7 linked regions of the Homo sapiens genome follow. The protein of the gene in region 1 interacts with the protein of each later gene in a pairwise test. Each region holds a gene or a part of one and is shown in the gene's direction. Other genes may lie near its edges.

Region 1 (2,756 bases):
GGGCTCAGAAAGATGGGTCTGTTGCCACCTCTGCTAGTGGACAGTTTCTTTCCCAACTTTTGGGACCCTGAGCACTCTAAAAGTTGCAGTTGGGGAAGATGACCTGAGGCCACAGCCCCAGGTCTGGTTCCAAACTGACTGTGTAAGGCAGAAGGCCACAGTTTGGGCTCAGGCAGGTTAGTAAGAGGTTGGGGGAGGACCCAAGAGGGAGCTTTGCCACCCAGGAGGGAGAAAGGGCTCCCCAGAGAGTCTAGTCCTTTGCCCAGGCTGTGGATTTCATTCAGACTAAGGAGGTCTGTGGGCAGGAGTGAGTGCACCACATCTGCCCCCAGTAAAAGGGAGGGGAGATGACCTATAGTAATCACCTACTCTTGCCAGCTTTTGTCGTGGATATTAGTAAGGGTGATATTAACCACAACAAAACGTATTTACTGAATGCTTGCTATTTTTAATAGGCTTATGTAATTCATTCTTCCCATGTGCTAGGTACTATTTATAATTCCACACCCTTCAATGAAGAATCCCTTATAATCTCCCTTTTACCGGTGAGAAAACTGAGGTTTAGTGTAGGTAACCTGCCCAAGGGCCCGCATAACAAATGGAGAGCTGAGGTTTTAGCCTGGCCTGGTAAGTTCTGAACAGAGGAAGGAAGGAAGCATCCCAGTGAAGAGACAGGATGCTCCAAGAGACCTTGGAGTGACAGTGACTTTATTAAAATAGCATTTACCAAGTGCTTTTTCTGTGCCAGTCACTGTGCTAAGTGCTTTACATGATCACCCGTTTTAATCCTTACTAGAACCTACAAGTTAAGTATTATCCCCATTTTAGAGATGATAAGATAGGGATAGTGAGGCTAAGCAACTTGCCCAGTGGCTGACTCCAGAGCAGGTCCTCATACCTCTGCTGTACTGCCTCTGATGTCTGCCCCAGGCAAGGTGGTCCTGGGAGCTCAGGCTTCCTTTTGGAATGCAAACGAATCAGAGATGATTGCGGATAGTCCGTTGTCGTCTCTGCAATCCCCTGAGCCTCAGTTGAAGAGACAATAATGGAGATTTGGAGAAAGAGGGATGAGGGCCTTCCACCTAAGGGGAGCATCCAGACACGGTCCCTGTTGTGTTTCTGACATCTTAGACAGACCCTTGGGATTTCTCTACCCTCTTTGTGCTTCTGTGCCCATCCTCTCGAAGTTCCTTGAACTGTTGTGATCCAGTATTCCTGATTGATGGAGGTGCTCATGGCAGGTTTTTGTGTGTCTGGTCTGTGTGCCCCTCTTCTCCAGCTCTGTCCCAAATGGGCTACAACCTGAGCCCCCAGTTCACCCAGCTTCTGGTCTCCCGCTACTGCCCACGCTCTGCCAATCCTGCCATGCAGCTTGACCGCTTCATCCAGGTGTGCACCCAGCTGCAGGTGCTGACAGAGGCCTTCCGGGAGAAGGACACAGCTGTACAAGGCAACATTCGGCTCAGCTTCGAGGACTTCGTCACCATGACAGCTTCTCGGATGCTATGACCCAACCATCTGTGGAGAGTGGAGTGCACCAGGGACCTTTCCTGGCTTCTTAGAGTGAGAGAAGTATGTGGACATCTCTTCTTTTCCTGTCCCTCTAGAAGAACATTCTCCCTTGCTTGATGCAACACTGTTCCAAAAGAGGGTGGAGAGTCCTGCATCATAGCCACCAAATAGTGAGGACCGGGGCTGAGGCCACACAGATAGGGGCCTGATGGAGGAGAGGATAGAAGTTGAATGTCCTGATGGCCATGAGCAGTTGAGTGGCACAGCCTGGCACCAGGAGCAGGTCCTTGTAATGGAGTTAGTGTCCAGTCAGCTGAGCTCCACCCTGATGCCAGTGGTGAGTGTTCATCGGCCTGTTACCGTTAGTACCTGTGTTCCCTCACCAGGCCATCCTGTCAAACGAGCCCATTTTCTCCAAAGTGGAATCTGACCAAGCATGAGAGAGATCTGTCTATGGGACCAGTGGCTTGGATTCTGCCACACCCATAAATCCTTGTGTGTTAACTTCTAGCTGCCTGGGGCTGGCCCTGCTCAGACAAATCTGCTCCCTGGGCATCTTTGGCCAGGCTTCTGCCCTCTGCAGCTGGGACCCCTCACTTGCCTGCCATGCTCTGCTCGGCTTCAGTCTCCAGGAGACAGTGGTCACCTCTCCCTGCCAATACTTTTTTTAATTTGCATTTTTTTTCATTTGGGGCCAAAAGTCCAGTGAAATTGTAAGCTTCAATAAAAGGATGAAACTCTGGAGTTCCATGTTTTCCACCATGATTTCTCAGCTACAGGTCCATCCACTCATCCTTTCAGTGACTATTTAAGTACATCCTATACACCACGCCATGCAGAAAGCAGCAGCTTGGGGGGACATTGCCTATGTGGGGCTCCTCTCCACTGCCAGAGGGAAGTTGAAGTATAGGGTAGCCAGCTGAGGGGCCTGCCGGGTTCAGTTCAGTATGGCCTGAAGGTCTATTTAGGAAGCTATTTCATAGCAGTTTTAGGGCTGGCATTCTGGGTTGAAAGCAGCTACCTCAAACTTCATAGCCTGGCCTTTTCTATTTTCTCAGGCCCTAGTTTTATCTTCCAGACAAACTCCATTTATTAAGTCATAACGTTCTCCCCACTTTTATTAAGCACAGACATCTGTACTTGCAAGTCAGATCTTTAGATCAGCATAATACCCAGTCTACACCGAGTGTCTCTAATGAGCTGACCACATTTCAATCAAAAGCCAAAGACACCAGACATTCTAG
Region 2 (2,359 bases), on another chromosome or scaffold:
ACCTCTCTAAAGGCCCTGTCTCCAAATAGAGTCACATTCTAAGGTACGGGGGTGTTGGGGAGGGGGGTTAGGGCTTCAACATGTGAATTTGCGGGGACCACAATTCAGCCCAGGACCCCGCTCCCGCCACCCAGCACTGGGGAGCTGGGGAAGGGTGAAGAGGAGGCTGGGGGTGAGAAGGACCACAGCTCACTCTGAGGCTGCAGATGTGCTGGGCCTTCTGGGCACTGGGCCTCGGGGAGCTAGGGGGCTTTCTGGAACCCTGGGCCTGCGTGTCAGCTTGCCTCCCCCACGCAGGCGCTCTCCACACCATTGAAGTTCTTATCACTTGGGTCTGAGCCTGGGGCATTTGGACGGAGGGTGGCCACCAGTGCACATGGGCACCTTGCCTCAAACCCTGCCACCTCCCCCCACCCAGGATCCCCCCTGCCCCCGAACAAGCTTGTGAGTGCAGTGTCACATCCCATCGGGATGGAAATGGACGGTCGGGTTAAAAGGGACGCATGTGTAGACCCTGCCTCTGTGCATCAGGCCTCTTTTGAGAGTCCCTGCGTGCCAGGCGGTGCACAGAGGTGGAGAAGACTCGGCTGTGCCCCAGAGCACCTCCTCTCATCGAGGAAAGGACAGACAGTGGCTCCCCTGTGGCTGTGGGGACAAGGGCAGAGCTCCCTGGAACACAGGAGGGAGGGAAGGAAGAGAACATCTCAGAATCTCCCTCCTGATGGCAAACGATCCGGGTTAAATTAAGGTCCGGCCTTTTCCTGCTCAGGCATGTGGAGCTTGTAGTGGAAGAGGCTCTCTGGACCCTCATCCACCACAGTGGCCTGGTTAGAGACCTTGGGGAAATAACTCACAGGTGACCCAGGGCCTCTGTCCTGTACCGCAGCTGAGGGAAACTGTCCTGCGCTTCCACTGGGGACAATGCGCTCCCTCGTCTCCAGACTTTCCAGTCCTCATTCGGTTCTCGAAAGTCGCCTCCAGAAGCCCCATCTTGGGACCACCGTGACTTTCATTCTCCAGGGTGCCTGGCCTTGGTGCTGCCCAAGACCCCAGAGGGGCCCTCACTGGCCTTTCCTGCCTTTTCTCCCATTGCCCACCCATGCACCCCCATCCTGCTCCAGCACCCAGACTGCCATCCAGGATCTCCTCAAGTCACATAACAAGCAGCACCCACAAGGTGCTCCCTTCCCCCTAGCCTGAATCTGCTGCTCCCCGTCTGGGGTTCCCCGCCCATGCACCTCTGGGGGCCCCTGGGTTCTGCCATACCCTGCCCTGTGTCCCATGGTGGGGAATGTCCTTCTCTCCTTATCTCTTCCCTTCCCTTAAATCCAAGTTCAGTTGCCATCTCCTCCAGGAAGTCTTCCTGGATTCCCCTCTCTCTTCTTAAAGCCCCTGTAAACTCTGACCACACTGAGCATGTGTCTGCTGCTCCCTAGTCTGGGCCATGAGTGAGGGTGGAGGCCAAGTCTCATGCATTTTTGCAGCCCCCACAAGACTGTGCAGGTGGCCGGCCCTCATTGAATGCGGGGTTAATTTAACTCAGCCTCTGTGTGAGTGGATGATTCAGGTTGCCAGAGACAGAACCCTCAGCTTAGCATGGGAAGTAGCTTCCCTGTTGACCCTGAGTTCATCTGAGGTTGGCTTGGAAGGTGTGGGCACCATTTGGCCCAGTTCTTACAGCTCTGAAGAGAGCAGCAGGAATGGGGCTGAGCAGGGAAGACAACTTTCCATTGAAGGCCCCTTTCAGGGCCAGAACTGTCCCTCCCACCCTGCAGCTGCCCTGCCTCTGCCCATGAGGGGTGAGAGTCAGGCGACCTCATGCCAAGTGTAGAAAGGGGCAGATGGGAGCCCCAGGTTATGACGTCACCATGCTGGGTGGAGGCAGCACGTCCAAATCTACTAAAGGGTTAAAGGAGAAAGGGTGACTTGACTTTTCTTGAGATATTTTGGGGGACGAAGTGTGGAAAAGTGGCAGAGGACACAGTCACAGCCTCCCTTAAATGCCAGGAAAGCCTAGAAAAATTGTCTGAAACTAAACCTCAGCCATAACAAAGACCAACACATGAATCTCCAGGAAAAAAGAAAAAGAAAAATGTCATACAGGGTCCATGCACAAGAGCCTTTAAAATGACCCGCTGAAGGGTGTCAGGCCTCCTCCTCCTGGACTGGCCTGAAGGCTCCACGAGCTTTTGCTGAGACCTTTGGGTCCCTGTGGCCTCATGTAGTACCCAGTATGCAGTAAGTGCTCAATAAATGTTTGGCTACAAAAGAGGCAAAGCTGGCGGAGTCTGAAGAATCCCTCAACCGTGCCGGAACAGATGCTAACACCAAAGGGAAAAGAGCAGGAGCCAAGTCACGT
Region 3 (3,060 bases), on another chromosome or scaffold:
CTAACCATCAAACCCTGTGTAGGGCTAGATATCTCAATGTAGTCCCTGTACTTAGTCCCAAAGGCTAGTTGGGCTAGAGGGAAACAAATTCTTCTGGACCACGGTTCACAATGAAGAACTGGAAAAAGACAGACAGGCTCAAACCATAGGGCCAAGAATCCTTGTCTCAGGCCTTTGGGTGAAGGTAGGGGTAGGGGGTGCAGGCTGGATCCTCATGTAAGGTATAAAGAAGTCAGTTGGTCCAGAGCCCGGGCCTCAGGTCTCCAGTTTGAAGCCTTTCATGTCTCTCTCCTTCCTCACAGGTGCCCTTTGGGGAAGTAAGCATGGTCCGGGACTGGTTGGGCATTGTGGGGCCTGTGCTGACCCCTCCCCAAGAGCATCCTAAACGACCAGTGCTGGGACTGGAGTGCCCACAGTCAGAAGTGAGTGGTGCCCGATTCTGGGGCTTTTTCCGGAACCTCTGTGGACAGCCTGAGGTCTTCTTCCATCACTGTTTTGTCCACAATCTATGCCCTCTGCTTTTCCTGGCTCCCAGCGGGCGCAACCTTACTCCTGCTGAGCTGCCTGCCAAGCAGCGAGAACAGCTTCTTGGGATCTGTGATGCAGCCCTCTGCCGGCAGGTGCAGCTGCTGGGGGTGCGGCTGGTGGTGGGAGTTGGGCGACTGGCAGAGCAGCGGGCACGACGGGCTCTGGCAGGCCTGATGCCAGAGGTCCAGGTGGAAGGGCTCCTGCATCCCTCTCCCCGTAACCCACAGGCCAACAAGGGCTGGGAGGCAGTGGCCAAGGAAAGATTGAATGAGCTGGGGCTGCTGCCACTGCTGTTGAAATGAGTGCCCTTGGGGCCTTGCATGGGACACATTCAAGACCTCGAAGTCATTCTTGGCCAAGCAGATGACAACACATCTCCTGGACTGGAGCAAAAGGTCCTTCTGTGCACCCTGGTCGCTGGGAAACGTATTCTTTGATCTGTTGAACTGTCTTCCAACCTGCCATGGCAGTTTTGACACTACTCCTGTTTGCCCTCCTGATTCCTGCTTTCTTTACCTTTTAACATTGCCCCTTTCAGGGGACCCCACTTTGTAGGGAATCTGCAGAAGGTGTGCTTTTGCACTTGCAGACTGCTCTACCTCAGTGTTTCCTTGGGAGACTTTATTCAGCTGAGAGTGCCCTAGACAGTAACTTCTAAGGTCACGTTTACTATTTCAGAGGAAATATCTTGCCAGGATACCTACCCATCCTTATAGAACAGTTACCTTTAGCTGACCCCTTTCCTCACAGGGACCAAGACAAAGCATGGGACATGAAATTAAGAGTGAACTTCTTATGGGAGGCTGCAGCTGGATCAGAGGAAAAATCCAGTGTGACAGAGTGCAAGTCAGAAGACCTGGCTTTTCATCCCAGCTTTGAAACTTGGAACTTTTTGATTGACAAATTAATAAACCTCTCTATGCCTCAGGCTCCTCATCTGTAAAACAGGGATGCCTACCTTATGGGGTTGGTGTGAGGATTAACTGAGATCACACTTGAAAGTGCCTTGCATGGGCTTGGCATGTGGGTGCTCATTACATAGTCTTCTTGTTTTCTTGCCTCTGGGTTGAGGATTCACAGCACTGCACTACAAGGGTAGCCCCTCTCCATTCTGGATACCTTGCTAGGAGAGAGTCTGGGCTTCCACCTGCGGCCAGGGTGAAGGGAAAATTCTTGCCATGTCAGAGATGGATCAATGACTATGAAAAAACTAGCCTGTGATTTTTTTTCACTCTAAGCATTAAGAGCTCCTAAAGCCTTTTGTCTTGTTACTTTTTTCCCCCTCTTGCATGCTAGAGGTGGAAGGTAGTCATTTAGATTTCCCCCCTCTTCCCTCTTCATTGTTGGCCAGGGGTTCTCTTGGGCAGCTGGGGGAAGGATGTAGTAGATCTCTCTTTTTTTTTTTTTTTTGAGATGGAGTCTCATGCTGTTGCCCAGGCTGGAGTGCAGTGGCATGGTCTCAGTTCACTGCAACATCTGCTTTCCCGGTTCAAGTGATTCTCCTGCCTCAGCCTCCTGTATAGCTGGAATTACAGGCATGTGCCACCACGCCTGGCTAATTTTTGTATTTTTATTAAAGACAGTGTTTCACCATGTTGGCCAGGCTGGTCTCAAACTCCTGACTTCAAGTAATCCACCTGTCTTGGCCTCCCAAAGTGCTGCTGCCTGGCTGGATGTAGCAGATCTCCAATTGCCTTACCAAACCTGCAGGGTCTCTGTTAAGTGTCTGTTAGGGGTCTTATATGATACTCTGGACACCGTGAGAAACAGGTGATGGGGCAGATGGGAACCTGGTATCCAACTCATTTTTTATGTCTGCTGAATGGTTGACTGGGTGCCCCTTTGGTAAGGGCTGGGAAAGTGAACCAAGTTGGGAGCAGAGCAGGTCTTGAGACCACCTTAATGAGGAACACATGGTCTACTTCCTATCTCCTGGGACACAGGTCATTTCCAGCTTCCAGAATTAGTAAGATTTTTCATATAAATCCTCCCCTACTTCATTGTATAATAAAGAATTTGGCCTTTGTCTTCAGTTCCTGAGAAGGAGACTCTAAATCCTTGGAATTTCCCAAGTAATAGGAGTATCTTTGTTTTTCGTGGCAGGTCCCTGAAACTACACCTGAATTTATGTTGAGATTTGACCTTAGGCTGCACCTAATTTTATATTGAATTTGATCTCAGACCACACCTGAGTTTGCTGTAAGATTTGACTGAGGATGGAGGCTGACCATGCCAGAATGACCAACCATATAGTTACAGGGCTGGGACTTTGAGCTGGATGATACCAGCTTGATCCCCAGGGAGGGGAGAGGGGCTAGAGATTGAGTTCAGCCACATGCCGATGATTTTAACCAATTATATCTATGGTAAAACTCTAGATATAAAAACTTCTGACACAGGTTTTGGTCAGCTTCCTGGCTGGTGAACACATGGATGTGCTGAGGGATGTGCATTGGTATCCTGTTTCTATGAGCAGAGGGCACACATCTGTGCCTGGGACACTCCTGGACCCTACCATATATTTGTCTTCAT
Region 4 (3,500 bases), on another chromosome or scaffold:
TGTTCTAACTGGAGGAAGTAGTGGCTGTGTTAGACTAACCAAGAATCCCTGTAGTTCACTCACAGCCTGTACACTGTCCTTCACGGTTTAAGGATAATTTTCTTTATGCCAGTCATGTCTTATGTGGTGGTATCAAAGTCTGACTACCCCTACGAGGTGGCTGTGCTCAGTGGATACCTGTCTGGGCATAGAAAATGCCAGGGCAGGCAAACCAGCATCAGAAGATGGCTAAGGCAGGAGTGGGGCCTATCCTGTTCACTTCCACACTTTGGTCTACTTTGGTTTTTATGATAAAGCAGGGATAGAGGAGAAAATAACTTAGAATTCTGAAAAACTTAAAAGCGGAGAAACGGTGACATTTAGTGACTTACTACATGTGAGAAATTGGTACTTTTCCTGGATTTTGCCTGGACTTTTTTCTCCCAAATTAGTATATTCTAGTCATGCCTAACTATGCTATTCTTTGTCTAGATGAACAAGAGAACTGGGCAACCCATGATCCACATCTACCTGGACAAGGAAACAGGAAAGCCCAAAGGCGATGCCACAGTGTCCTATGAAGACCCACCCACTGCCAAGGCTGCCGTGGAATGGTTTGATGGTGAGATGTACTCACTGGCATTCTTAATCTCCCTGGCTATAGAATATGGCATGAGGGAGAAACTTGTGAACCATAGGAGCAAGAAGACCTTCCATCTCTTCCTGGGGGAGGTAGATGGCCGGTCTCCCTGCAGTAGTAGTAGCACCCAGCCATTGACCCTGGATTTGGAGATCCCTTTATTTTGAGGCATTAGTATTACAAATCAACCTTGCTTAAAGTGGCAAACACTTCCTAAGCACAGATTATCAGAAGGTACAGAAAACCCTTCAAAAGAACATCTTAGCCAGTGTACATTTGCATATAGATAAATATATATATTTAAATGAGGCCTTGACATTAATGGTGGGATTTCACTTCAGACAAAACCAACTTGAAAGCATTGAATGACTTGGCCATGTCCAGTGGCTTGCACCTGTAATCCCAGCACTTTGGGAGGCCAACATCGGTGCATTGCTTGAATCCAGGGGCTTGAGACCAGCCTGGGGAACATGGCAAAACCCTGTCTCTACAAAAAAAATACAAAAATTAGCCAGGTGTTGTGGCACACTCCTATACCTATAGTACCAGCCACTCAGGAGGCTGAGGTGGGAGGATCACTTGAGCCCGGAGAGTTTGAAGCTCCAGTGAGCTGAGATTGCACCACTGCACTCCAACCTGGGCAACGGAGCAAGACTCTGTCTCAAAGAAAGTGTCAAATAACAAGTCCTGGTTCTGTTTTCTTGGTCATGCAGTCAGCTTCCCACCAGCTTATTTTCCTCCTTATGGTAGACAGTGTTTTTTGCTTGTGTTGTTTTTTTTGAGATGGTCTCACTTTGTCACCCAGGCTGGAGTGCAGTGACACAAGCCATCTCAGCTTACTGCAACCTCCACCTCCCAGGTTCAAGCCAATCTTGTGCGTCAGCCACTCGAGTAGCTGCTGGACTACAGGCGCATGTCACCACGCTGAGCCTAACTTTTGTATTTTTTAGTAGAGATGGGGTTTCACCATGTTGGTCAGGCTGTAGGAAGGTTTTTAAGTGTATTTAAGTATGGCCTTTTTCTGGCCAGGCACAGTGGCTCTTGCCTATAATCCTACCACTTCAGGAGGCCAAGGCAGGAGGATTGTTTGAACCAAGGAGTTCACTAGCAGCCTGGGCAACCTAGTGAGACACTGCCTCTACAAACAATTTTGTAAAATTAGTCGGGCATGGTGATGCGTGCCTGTAGTCCCAGCTACTTGGGAGGATTGCTTGAGCAAGTGAGATTGAAACTGCAGTGAGCTGTGCCACTGCACTCCAGCCCGGGCAACAGAGTGAGACTCCCATCTCAAAAAAAGCCTTTTTCTGGCCTTGTCATTAAAGATCTTAGAGAAGATTACAGGCAGACCTAATGCATCTGGGAGTGGTCATTTGATGATGATGTGGAGTTGGTGAACAGGGAGTACAGGGGAGTAATTGATGTTCTGTTGTCTTGTTCCAGGGAAAGATTTTCAAGGGAGCAAACTTAAAGTCTCCCTTGCTCGGAAGAAGCCTCCAATGAACAGTATGCGGGGTGGTCTGCCACCCCGTGAGGGCAGAGGCATGCCACCACCACTCCGTGGAGGTACTTTTTCTGAGCTCCTATGTTGCATTAAAAGGTTTTCAGTACACTTCATACCCTTGAGAAACTTGATTATTAGAGTGAAGAAATATAAAATTGTGTGTAGAGTCAATACTAGACTATCGAGAGCTAACAATGAATGTTTGTTGGGAATAAAAGGAAGAGAAGAACATGGGAGGCTGGAAGCCACTCTGCCTGTCAACTCCAGACTGCCATTTATTCAGCTTTGGTTGTGTCTGTATAGACATGCCTATTCCTTACAGAATTGTGGGAGTTCAGCCAGGTGCAGTGGCTCACGCCTGTAATCCCAGCACTTTGGGAGGCTGAGGTGGGCGGATCACCTGAGGTCAGGAGTTTAAGACCAGCCTGGCCAACGTGGTGAAACTCCCTCTCTACTAAAAATACAAAAATTAGCCGGGTATGGTGGTGCATGCCTGTAATCCCAGCTACTCGGGAGGCTGAGGCAGGAGAATTGTTTGAATCTGGGGGGGTGGAGGTTGCAGTGAGCAAAGATCGTGCCACTGCACTCCAGCCTGGGCAACAGTGTGAGACTCCGTCTCCAAAAAAAAAAAAAAAAAATTGTGGGAGCTCTGTTTCTGTAGAGCACGTGGAACACGCTCCTCACAGGGAAGGGGGCTGATGGCCTGAGCCACACGGAAACACGGGACAGGTGATGGGGAAATGACAGCAGTAGTATCTGTGGGTTTACTTAGTGATTTTTATTTCCTATAGCAAATTTGGTGCTACAGAGAAATGATTTGCTGTTTCTTGTTGTTCTTGTTGTAGGTCCAGGAGGCCCAGGAGGTCCTGGGGGACCCATGGGTCGCATGGGAGGCCGTGGAGGAGATAGAGGAGGCTTCCCTCCAAGAGGACCCCGGGGTTCCCGAGGGAACCCCTCTGGAGGAGGAAACGTCCAGCACCGAGCTGGAGACTGGCAGTGTCCCAATCCGTATGTACTTGTCTTGGCAAATTGATACCCTACGAGTGAAGCCACCCTTCCCTCACCCCATCCCCACTCTAGAGTGGATTGCTCTGTCTAGAGGAACAGAATGATGACCCTGATGGCTGGTTAGGGACACTAGTCAGCCATTCACTGGACGCTTCAGAGCCTTCTGAAGATTGATTTGACCTGTCCTGTGGGTGCAATGCTGCCTGAGGCTGTGCCCTAAAGCATGGGTGTACATAGATCCTCTTGATAGTGAGTGTGTACCTGTTCACACACCACCTTTCCTTGTTTATCTTCCTTAGTTCAATTGGTGATTTCTGCTGTGATGTAATTGTATGCAGGGGTTGTGGAAACCAGAACTTCGCCTGGAGAACA
Region 5 (3,500 bases), on another chromosome or scaffold:
ATGGAGCTGATGGAGTCCAGGCTGTGCAAGCCCCTGAGGTCTTGAGAGATGTGCCCACTGCCCGTGCAGCCTCCTTCAGCCAGAGCCCAGAGCATAGACAGGAGTGTAGGAGTCCCTGTTTGATGTACTCTGGGAGAGTAATTCTATCTCCTCTTCTGATAGTTGGGGAAACTGAGGCCTTGTCTCACAGTTGGATGCTTTTCCCAGTTGTCAGTGGGTTTCTCCATGGGTCTCATACAGCTGCCTTATTGAAATAGGCCCCGAACCCCCTAAATGCAAAAAATACTCTTTTTTGCTCCTTTACCCCCACCTGGACCCTGGGCTATTGGCTGCTCCCAATCCTTGCCCCAAACACTTAGCTGGCTCCCCATGACTTAAGTGTGTTCTCTTGTGTCCTATGGAATCCAGTTCTGAAGAGGTGGGGGAGGACAACTGTGGGAAAAGCCCTGGGGGCCCCTCCCAAGGCCCCATCAGTGCTCTGAGTAGGCTGTCATCAGAACAAAGGGCTCCACTGCTGACAAGGTTTGAGAACTGCTGGCTTGAGGTGAGAACCCCTTTAACCTCTGCGGGACAGCATGTCTTTCCCTATCCACCTTCGATTCTTTTCTCTTTTTTTTCTTCATTGGCTCCTTCTTAGTGGATTCTCTTCTCTACTGCCCTGGGCTTCAGCCTTTGTGCAGTACTCTCGATGCCCTGAACACACACCTTCCCTTTGCCCAGGCGGTGCAAACAATCCACTTCTTCAAGCTCCAACACAAATGCTGCCTCCTTTAGGATGCCTGCTCTGTGCTCTCCCTGCCTCCCCTAGCCCATACCTCTGCTGGCACCTTCTGTACCATGCCTTCAGAAACCTTCTTATCCCCCTCATCTCTGGGGCCCCCTGTGGATCTGGCATACCCAAGTTCAGTAAATGTCTATCAGTAAGCTGATGGTACATGCATTTTCTAGAATAGAGCTGGGACTTCCCATGTGGCCCACATCTGACCTGGCAGCCCATGTATTCCGGTCATTAGGGATGGGAAGCCATGAGGACCTGGCCTTCTGCCCGACCCAGGCAGCCATTCAAGTTGAGCAATGGCCACTTCGAAGACTCAAGTGCACCTGATCCCTGCGCAACAGCCACACCAGGAGAACAGGCTGTCCTTGGCGGCAGTAGGAGCAGGCGCCAGGTTTCCTGGAGCTCTTGGCTTCAGCCAGCCCCCAGCCAGAGTCCTGGCTAGGACAGTGACCTGATCTCCTCCTCATGACCTTCTGCCCTGGACAAGCCCCCTGAACTGGATTTGGGACTGTCAAAGCAACTCTACCCCTGCTCTGGTAGGCTGAACAGTGACCCCCCAAAATGGCAGTGTCTTAATCACCTAAACCTTAACATGTGACTATATTACCTTCACATAGCAAAATGGACTTTGCAGATGTGATTAAGGATCTTGAGATGGAAGGAGTATCCTGGATTTTTCAGGTAAACTGAGTATAATCACAAGGGCCTCTGTAAAGGAGGCAGGAGTGTCAGAGTGACGGAAGAAAATGTATGTAACAATGGAAGCAGAGGTCAGAGTGATGCAATTGCTGGAGGAAGAGCCATGAGCCGAGGAATGCAGACAGCCTCTTCTCCTCTGGGGCCTCAAGAAGAATGCAGTCCTGCCAATACCTTGATTTTAAGCCCTGTGAAACTGATTTCAGATTGCTGACCTCCAGAACAGTAAGATCATAAATTTGTGTTGTTTTCACATGTGTGAAAACACATGTGTGATAATTTGTTACAGCAGCCACGGGAAACGAATATAGATTGTGGTGCCCAAATTAGAGTGCTGCTGTAACACACGCCTACTGATTGAAGTGGCTTTGGAATTGCAACGTGGAAATGGGCAGAGGCTGGAAGAATTTTGAGAGTCATGATAAATTGCCTTAACCACCTCTCTTCTGATAGGTGATGTGGCCAGGGGAACTCTTCCTCAACCTTCAGACCTAAACTGCCCAGGCCCCCCCTTTTTTTACTCATATTTGGAGAGAGGTGGCCCTTTCCCAGAGTGAGAAGACTGAAAGACTGACCAGCATGGGTCCCAGAAGGGAGTGGGTGAGGAATGGGACTGGGATGTGGGGAGAAAGTGCAAGGCTGGCCTCCATGGCCCATCTCCAGAGACTGGGTCCAGAGAGGACCTCAGAGACTGGGACCAAGCCTGTTCCTGCTCTCCTGTGGAGTTATGTGACTGGCCCAGGACCCCTTGGGTGTGTGAGGATGAGCAGGGGCCCTGTACTCTCTGGGTTGCAGGTACTGCATCTGTGAAATGAGCACAGCAGCCCCTGACTTTGAGCTAATGGGCCTGGCCCCTCCATGTAAGCCATAGGCCTGAGCAGAGCTGTGTCACCATTCTGTTCCTATGGTGGAGTGGGGCTATCCCTGGGGTTCTCAACCTCCTGGTTCCTAAAACTGAATTGGCCAACTGGTGCCCTCAGCCCTGTCCCTGTCCAAGCTGGGACTAGGACCTCCCTTTCCAGGGGTACTAAAGGACTCTGGAGACACCATCCCACCCAGCCAAGGCTTGGGGCTCCTGAAGCCAGTCCTAACCCAGGAGCCACATGGAGAGCTACTGGGAGGCCAGACATGGGCCTCATGCTGGGTTTCAGAGCTGAGAAGCTGGGGGACAGAGAGCATGGACACCTGGGTTCAAGGGTCAGCTTGGCCCCAAATCACCTGGATACGCTTTGGATGAAGCCAGGAGGGCCTGTTTATACTGGAAGGGGTGGATCATGGCAAGACTTATATTCAATCCCTGATCTTTTTTCCCAGAGAGGGATGGGGCTTACTTGAAGTAACACAGCACTTGACTCCTGACTCCCAGTATGATGCTCTCATCTCCTATTGCTTCCAAAGGCCTGGGGTTAGTTAATTAAGTCAATTAGGTGGTGCTCATATGGCTGTCCATGTAGCTACTAAACCCAGGGATTCTGGCCCATAAAGCCCTCTGGGCCAGGTTTATGGGCAGGTAAGAGTCACATTAGGCCAACTGTAGCCCTGGGTGTGCAGACAGATCTGAGTCCCATCTGAAGCTCTGGTAGCTGTGGGAGGAGAGCAGGATTTCCCCCGCTTGCGGAATGAGTGGGTGCCTTCCCCTCTGAGGTAATTGGCTGTACAGCCCCCAGCCTCTGCCCCCCAGGGCCCTCCTGAGGTGTCTGGAAGGACCTTTGGGATCTTTGGCCTCATAACCAGAAATCAGAAGCTTCAAATTCTAGAGGCCCCTTTTCTTCCAAAGACTACCTCTCACACATACAGCAGTCCTGCAGGAAAATGGTCAGGAAAGGCTAATTTTACAGCTCACAAAGTGGGAAAGGCAGGGAAGCCTACCTCAGCTTCATGGAAAGCCCTGAACTGGGCTGACCTCCACCTGCCCCAGCTATGCCTAAAGGGGGAGGGTGAGACAGCTTAGAGTAGCCATGCCCCGTGGCAGGCAGGCCTGGCTAAGTGGCCCCCTTCCCAGGGGCTGGGGTCTTCCCCAAACACT
Region 6 (3,500 bases), on another chromosome or scaffold:
AGATTCCTCCCAGCATTCAGATTTTGTGGCTTCTAGTACCACAGAAAATTCAGGGCACTTTGACAAATTCAGTTCAATTTCACTGATACTTGCTAAGCCTGTTTGTAATTAGGTCTCCTGCTGATTCATCACTGTCTCACTTGGCTACCAACAAGGAGTCTTAGGGGTCAAAGCAAGATTCAGACATAGAGCTTTATTTTGTCCAGACATATAAATCTGATGATCAATAAACCAATTAGTCTAAAAGGCATCCGTGATGCAAGGATCAAGCCTTTGAAGGTGGTAGGGCTTCTACAACTGAAAAAGATTTATGACAGTGAAAAAGGATTGCAGAAAGCGCTGAAAAGGTTTTATCTTGTTAATGTACATACTCTTTTTATTATCCCATTTGATTCTAAAATTATGGTTAGGAACCTAAGAGAAAGAATAGGACATCATAAACAAAGCCTCTTTTATAAGGCAGAGCTGGGACTTCGAGTGATCTAATTCATTTTTTCTTTCATGATATTGCCTTTAGTGAAATGGGGACAACAAAGGCCAGTATATTAAATGCCCAAGATTGGACTACAGAGACTTTAACTCAGCAAGAGCTCTGCCTAGGGCAGGGTGAGCCCTGAACTTTGGGCCTAGCTGTGTACTGATGTGCTGTACAATTTGGGGAAAATCTGTCCTTCTGGGCTCCAGGTTCTTTCTCGGAAAAGGAGGAGGTTGAATATAAACCTCTAATGTCCTTCAGGCACAACATTCCAAAGTCTTAATTCTGTGACCTTCAGACTTAGAATTCCTTTCAGGATAGCCAGGCCTCCAGTGAGTGAACTGAGTCTAAGTTCATTTGGGCAAAATCTGTGAGACTTTTTTGCAACAAGCCCAACAGCTTCTTTTACTTAGATGCATAAAGTAATAAACCCTGATTTTTGTGTCACCCAAGCTCAGGCTATAGCTCCAGGGGAATTTTCAGTGTTCCTCAAGAGTATTGACAGGACCACTAGTAAATTATGGAAAGTCCTCTGAAATGATTTCCTCATGAAAGTCTTCTGAAATACTCAGAGACCTAGAATGTCAGCACTAGAGAAGTTCTCTGATACTGTCTAGTCCAAATGAGGATATTCCCTGAGAGGAATTGACCTGACTTACTGACAGAACCTAGGATGAGGGCCCCCAGGCAGTTTCTCCAGCCTCATGAAGATCCTCCTGACAAATGGTAACCTTGAGAACCACTGTGGTTAGAGGAAGTAGCACTGAGTCTTAGATCCCCACAAACAGCTCTCTCTTTCAGCAACTACTCATTATCTCATCTGTGAAATGTTTACGTTGGTCTTAATGATCTCTGAGTCTTCTAGCTCTGCAGTTCTGCTTCTATCTCAGACTGTCTGGACAAACAAGCAAGGCCTTCTTCTGCAGCATCATCTCTTTGGCTGCCAAGGGTGTTTTGGCTACTGATTTGTATTCTGAGTATGTGTGTGTCTCATTTCATAACATGAAGAAAGGGAAACATTCTCAGACAAGGTTATTCTTAGATGTGGGAACCAAATTCTACTGCAGTCTCTTGGAGCTTTTTGATTTTCCTCAGAGGGATAGTCTCACCACTTTGTAATATGGCTGTCCTTGTGGCATACAGTGGGTAATCCAGCTTCCCCAGGGAAGAGAAAAATTCCAGAGCACATTCTCCAGGAGCATAAAGGAAAGTCATCAGCATCTTTGGCCTGTTAACTTTAAAGAATCATAAAATCATGGCATTTTAAGCCATAACATTTTAGAATCTTAGAATCCTGGAGTCTGTGTTCCAAGCTGGGACAGACCATAGTAGTCATAGATTAGCTTTAGTCTCTCAGACCAGGCTCTGCCTGCATACCCTTAGGACAGAAGCTTACTGTCCCTATAAAGTGAGAGAGAAAATAATAATAGCTGATCTTTATAAAGTGCTTCTAATATGTCAGGTACTGTTCTAAGTGCTTTTTACTTAACAGTTAATGTATTTATCACAATGAAGTAGGTACCATTACTGTTCCCATATCACACGCGAGACTGATGTATCCTATAGCTATTAAGTCTCAGAGCTGGGGGTTTGGACCCAGGCAGTCAGTCTGTCTCCAGACTGCTCATAACCATGGCTCTGTGCTACAGAGCTTTCAGAAACAGGCACCTTCTGATTCAGGGGTGTCCTACTCTCCTGCATAGAAAAGGGATGCTTTCAGCTCTGCTAGGTTTCTCTACACCTTGATATATTCCTTTAAATTAGGGGTCAGCAAACATTCCTGTAAAGGGCCAAATATTTAGGCTTTTAAAAAGGCCATATGCTCTCTGTCAGTGACTACCATTGTAGCAGGAAAGTAGCCTTAGTCAATATGTAAATGAATGGATGTGGATGTGTTACAATATAACTTTGTTTACCAAAACTAGCTTCAATTACAAAAAACATGGCTGAAATTTAATTGTTTTAAATGTTTATAGTATGAATAAAAGATTCTGTGGTAAAATTAATTTGGAAAATACAGTCTTGTACATACTCCCATCTTAGAGATTCACAGTTCACCTCCCCACCTTCTTTAAGAGACAGGGTCCTGCTCTGTCACCCAGGCTGAAGTACAGTGTTGTGATCATGGCTCACAACAGCCTTAGACTCCTGGGCTCAAGCCATCCTCATGCCTCAGCCTCCCAAGTAGCTGGGGACTACACCAGCCACCATGCCTGGCTAAGTTTTTTTCTTTTTTTAGAGATGTAGTCTGTCTGTGTTACCCAGGCTGGTGTTAAACTCCTGGTCTCAAGTGCTTCTCCTGCCTTGGCCTCCCAAAGTGCTGGGATTATAGGTGAGAGCCATCACATCCAGCCCATCCTATTGTTTTAAAAACTTCTCAGGGTCATGGAATAAAAACAAAATCTTAACTGTTTATCTCTATTTTACATATGGGACTATAGAACTCTTTTGTTTCCTTTTCTTTGGCAAAAACAACTATTAAGATCCCTTGGGATCTATAGTACGTTGTCCACATTTGGGAAATGTCTATCTCTGGTTTATCTATAAAACCCCTTTATTTTATAGATAAGTAAATTGTGTCTCCGTACACATCAGATGGTTCCTTCTAGACATCTGCAAAGCTAGTCTCCCTGTCTTCCCCCACAGTATCTGCTTCTCCTCCTATGACCACATTTCATCATTAGCTCCATAATCTAGAAACTTTGAGAAATCTGCTCTAGACTTCTCACTCAGCTCATAGTTGCACTTCCAGTTAGTTTCTACTTCTCTTTAACATGCTTCCCTCTCTTTCATATGTACTTTCCATTCTATCCTCATTGTTACTTATTTCCCAAGCATATTTGATCACAAAACTATGGAAAAAACTATGGATCTGCAGGTGAAAAAATAAATGACGTGAATCCAGGAACAGGCTGACTTTTGTGGCAGCTGTGCAGCAGCTCTCCTATCCTCCTGAGTCATCAGGGGCAGGGGGGTGCTAAGCCAAAGAGGTGTGATGTGGACTGAGAAAGATTTGTGACCATGT
Region 7 (3,500 bases), on another chromosome or scaffold:
GCTGGGACTACAGGTGCCCGCCACCACGCCCGGCTAATTTTTTGTATTTTTAGTAGAGACGGGGTTTCACCGTGTTAGCCAGGATGGTCTCGATCTCCTGACCTCGTGATCCGCCCGCCTTGACCTCCCAAAGTGCTGTGATTACAGGTGTGAGCCAATATTTCTTTGAAAAGCATTTAAAATTCTGTATTGGGATCTGCAGGTTGATACTTCTCAGCAGACAGCCTCAAGTTTATGAAATAGTGTAGGCTTCCAAGTGAAATAGTAATATCAATAGTTACCTTTTTAACCTTATGTATGTTTATATGGCATATACTCCATCAGGCTTGTAAATTGTTAATGGCTGAAACTTTATTTTTCCAAGCCTTTGATCAGACATTGGCCCTGGTGAATGCATTTTGGCCTTGTAAAGATTAAAGCTGCTTCTAGAAACTTAAGTTTCTTTGTGGAAATCTTCTGACCTGCAATTAGTAGAGCTAAAATCCTTCATGTTACTTTTGTTCTAATTCATTTGATACCATGAGTGAGCATCAATCACTTGAAATGAATGAATATGGTGGCACACATCAATCACTTGAATGAATGAATGTGTGGTCCCAGCTACTCGGGGGGCTGAGGTGGGAGAATTGCTTGAGCTCTGGCAATTGAGGCTGCAGTGAGCTATGATTGTGCCACTGCGCTCCGGCCTAGGTGACAGAGTGAGACTTGGTCTAAAAAAAAAATTTAAGTGTTAAAAAAAATGTTATCTATATTATTTTCCAGGCTCTATCAAACTTTGATATCATTATCTGTTTTTCTGTTTTGCTTTTTATTTTTTAGAGATAGGCTGTCTCTCTGTTTCCCAAGCTGGAGTGCAGTGGTGCAATCCTAGTGTCATCAAACTGCTGGGCTCAAGCTATCCTCCCGCCTCACCTCCCTGAGTAGGCGTGCCACAGTGCCTGGCTAATCTTTTGTTCTTTATTTTTTTGTATAGACAGGGTCTTACCCTGTCGCCCAGGGTAGAGTAGGGTAACACGATCATAGCTCACTTAACTGCAACATAGCTTGCTGTAACTGCTGACCTCAAGCCATCCTGCTGCCTGGATTTCCTAAAGTTCTGGGATTACAGGTGTGAGCCACCTAGCCAGGCCTGCATTATCTTGTTTAATCTTCGTAACAGTCTCTTACAGATCTAAAGTATAAGACTTGAATAATTTGCCCAAAGCCACAGTAAAATAGTTTGGGAAAACATTTATTTAAAAACTATTTAAGGGCCAGGCGTGGTGGCTCACGCCTATAATCCTAGCACTTTGGGAGTCCAAGGCAGGAGGATCCACTTGAGGCCAGGAGGCCAGGAGTTCACTAGCCTGAGCAAAATAGCAAGACCCCATCTCTATTTTTTTAAATAATTTTATTTAAAAATAAATAAATACTAAGAGTAGGTGTAGCTTCTCTTAAAAAGGTACATTATCAATAATCTGAAATTTCTTTAGCTATAATAGAAACCCTCAGAGCACCTTGTCTCCACTACAGATTTGGTGAGAGAGACATAAATAAGTGCTGAGGCTGGGCATGGTGGCTCACGCCTGTAAGCCCAGCACTTTGGGAGGCTGAGTCGGGTGGATCACCTGAGGGCAGGAGTTCGAGACCAGCCTGGCCTACATGGTGAAAACCTCGTGTCTACTAAAAATACAAAAATTAGCCAAGTATGGTGGCACGTGCCTGTAATCCCAGCTACTCAGGAGGCTGAGGCAGGAGAAGCGCTTGAAGCTGGGAGGCGGAGGTTGCAGTGAGCTGAGATTGCACCACTACCTTCAGTCTGGGCGACAGAGCAAGACTCCATCTCAAAAAAAAAAAGTGCTGAAACTTATGAAAGAAGGGGAAATAAAAACATATAAACTAATAAAATGAACCTAAAAAGTAACCTTCTTTTTTCTCATTTGAACCTTCAAAGAACCTTCAAATTCCTCATTTTTTTTCTTTTTTCCAACTCATAACTGAGAGTTGGTACCTGATAGTCTGGTATCAAAGCTGTGAGTATTTAGGTTATACTAAGTTTTTAGTTCATATATTAAATTTTCCTGAATTTTTTTAATAGGTCACCTTTAAGCATCATTATACTCATTTAGGGGCTGAGAGGGCAGACTCTGAAACTCTAGCTATCAGTGTCGTAAATAAGAATTCTTCAACTTGAAAAAATGTTCATTTTATGAAATATATGATTATCTGTTCAAAAATAGTCTTCTAAAAGCTGTGAAAATCTCTGTAAGTTTACTTTTATTCGTTAAACATTAGGTTGTAGGTTACATCTTTGTGGCCAGATGTATTTTACATTCTTGTTCATGCTGAGTTGGCCATGTACCTTGCCCCTTTGTTCCTTTGACTTGTCTATACTGCCATAGATATGTGTGACCACTTCTTTGATAAGGGAGTTACATGGCAATAATCTTTGTCTTCACTTTTGTCAACAAGGCACTGATAGTCTTGTTAGCAGTTGTAAGATTCAGTAATAGGCAATTTTTCTTTTTCTTTTTTTTTTTTTTTTTTTTTTTTGAGACGGAGCCTTACTCTGTCGCCCAGGCTAGAGTGCAGTGGCGCAATCTCGGCTCACTGCAACCTCCGCCTCCCAGGTTCAAGCAGTTCTTCTGCCTCAGCCTCCCTAGTAGCTGGGATTACAGGCATGCGCCACCACGCCCAGCTAATTTTTTGTATTTTTAGTAGAAACGGGGTTTCACCATATAGGCCAGGCTGGTCCCAAACTCCTGACCTTGTGATCCACCTGTCTCAGCCTCCCAAAGTGCTGGGATTACAGGCGTGAGCCACTGCACCCAGCCTAATAGGCAATTTTTCAACTTGATACTGGAGTATTTAACAGTATTGGTGAAACATTTTGAAAAATTTCAGGCTGAGCGTGGTGGCTCACGACTGTAATTCCAGCACTTTGAGAGGCCGAGGCGGGTGGATTACGAGGTCAGGAGTTTGAGATCAGCCTCCAGCCTGGCCAATATGGTGAAACCCCATCTCTACTAAAAATACAAAAATTAGCCGGGCGTGGTGGCGCGCACTTGTGGACCCAGCTGCTGCCGGAGGCTGAGGCAGGAGAATCGCTTGAACCCAGGAGGCGGAGGTTGCAGTGAGCCGAGATTGCGCCATTGCACTCCAGCCTGGGGGACAAGAGTGAGACTTCGTCTCAGAAAAAAAAAAAAAAAGTGTTCCTTCTGCCTCGGTCTCCCAAAGTCCTGGTATTATAGACATGAACCACTGCTCCTGGCCCCCTATTTTTATTTTTATTTATTTATTTATTTATTTTGAGACAGAGTCTCGCTCTTGTTGCCCAGGCTGGAGTGCAGTGACGAGATCTCAGCTCATTGCAACCTCTGCCTCGCAGGTTCAAGTGATTCTCCTGCCTCAGCTTCCCAAGTAGCTGGGATTACAGGTGCCCACCACCACACCTGGCTAATTTTTTGTATTTTTAGTAGAGATGGGGTTTCACCATGTTGGCAGGCTTGTCTTGAACTCCT

Evidence for each region.
Region 2: the proteins of PEF1 (region 1) and STH interact in binary tests that used the Homo sapiens proteins (3 or more experiments, as listed by UniProt).
Region 3: the proteins of PEF1 (region 1) and SMUG1 interact in binary tests that used the Homo sapiens proteins (3 or more experiments, as listed by UniProt).
Region 4: the proteins of PEF1 (region 1) and EWSR1 interact in binary tests that used the Homo sapiens proteins (3 or more experiments, as listed by UniProt).
Region 5: the proteins of PEF1 (region 1) and HEMK1 interact in binary tests that used the Homo sapiens proteins (3 or more experiments, as listed by UniProt).
Region 6: the proteins of PEF1 (region 1) and FAM168A interact in binary tests that used the Homo sapiens proteins (3 or more experiments, as listed by UniProt).
Region 7: the proteins of PEF1 (region 1) and SEC24A interact in binary tests that used the Homo sapiens proteins (3 or more experiments, as listed by UniProt).

Annotation. Positions count from the first base shown.
Region 1 is NC_000001.11:31,629,366-31,632,121, reverse strand, and holds the end of PEF1 (peflin), read left to right. Parts: intron 1-1,279; coding exon 1,280-1,509; 3' UTR 1,510-2,256; downstream 2,257-2,756. UniProt on the Homo sapiens protein: Calcium-binding protein that acts as an adapter that bridges unrelated proteins or stabilizes weak protein-protein complexes in response to calcium.
Region 2 is NC_000017.11:45,997,836-46,000,194, forward strand, and holds STH (saitohin), read left to right. Parts: upstream 1-1,414; 5' UTR 1,415-1,444; coding exon 1,445-1,831; 3' UTR 1,832-1,859; downstream 1,860-2,359.
Region 3 is NC_000012.12:54,179,866-54,182,925, reverse strand, and holds the end of SMUG1 (single-strand selective monofunctional uracil DNA glycosylase), read left to right. Parts: intron 1-302; coding exon 303-830; 3' UTR 831-1,278; coding exon of another isoform or gene 1,279-1,407; 3' UTR 1,408-2,560; downstream 2,561-3,060.
Region 4 is NC_000022.11:29,295,768-29,299,267, forward strand, and holds part of EWSR1 (RNA-binding protein EWS), read left to right. Parts: intron 1-471; coding exon 472-601; intron 602-2,059; coding exon 2,060-2,182; intron 2,183-2,965; coding exon 2,966-3,128; intron 3,129-3,427; coding exon of another isoform or gene 3,428-3,466; coding exon 3,467-3,500. UniProt on the Homo sapiens protein: Binds to ssRNA containing the consensus sequence 5'-AGGUAA-3'. Might normally function as a transcriptional repressor. EWS-fusion-proteins (EFPS) may play a role in the tumorigenic process.
Region 5 is NC_000003.12:50,583,022-50,586,521, forward strand, and holds part of HEMK1 (MTRF1L release factor glutamine methyltransferase), read left to right. Parts: 3' UTR 1-1,013; coding exon of another isoform or gene 1,014-1,029; 3' UTR 1,030-3,500. UniProt on the Homo sapiens protein: N5-glutamine methyltransferase responsible for the methylation of the glutamine residue in the universally conserved GGQ motif of the mitochondrial translation release factors MTRF1, MTRF1L, MRPL58/ICT1 and MTRFR.
Region 6 is NC_000011.10:73,413,113-73,416,612, reverse strand, and holds part of FAM168A (protein FAM168A), read left to right. Parts: intron 1-3,500.
Region 7 is NC_000005.10:134,662,285-134,665,784, forward strand, and holds part of SEC24A (protein transport protein Sec24A), read left to right. Parts: intron 1-3,500. UniProt on the Homo sapiens protein: Component of the coat protein complex II (COPII) which promotes the formation of transport vesicles from the endoplasmic reticulum (ER).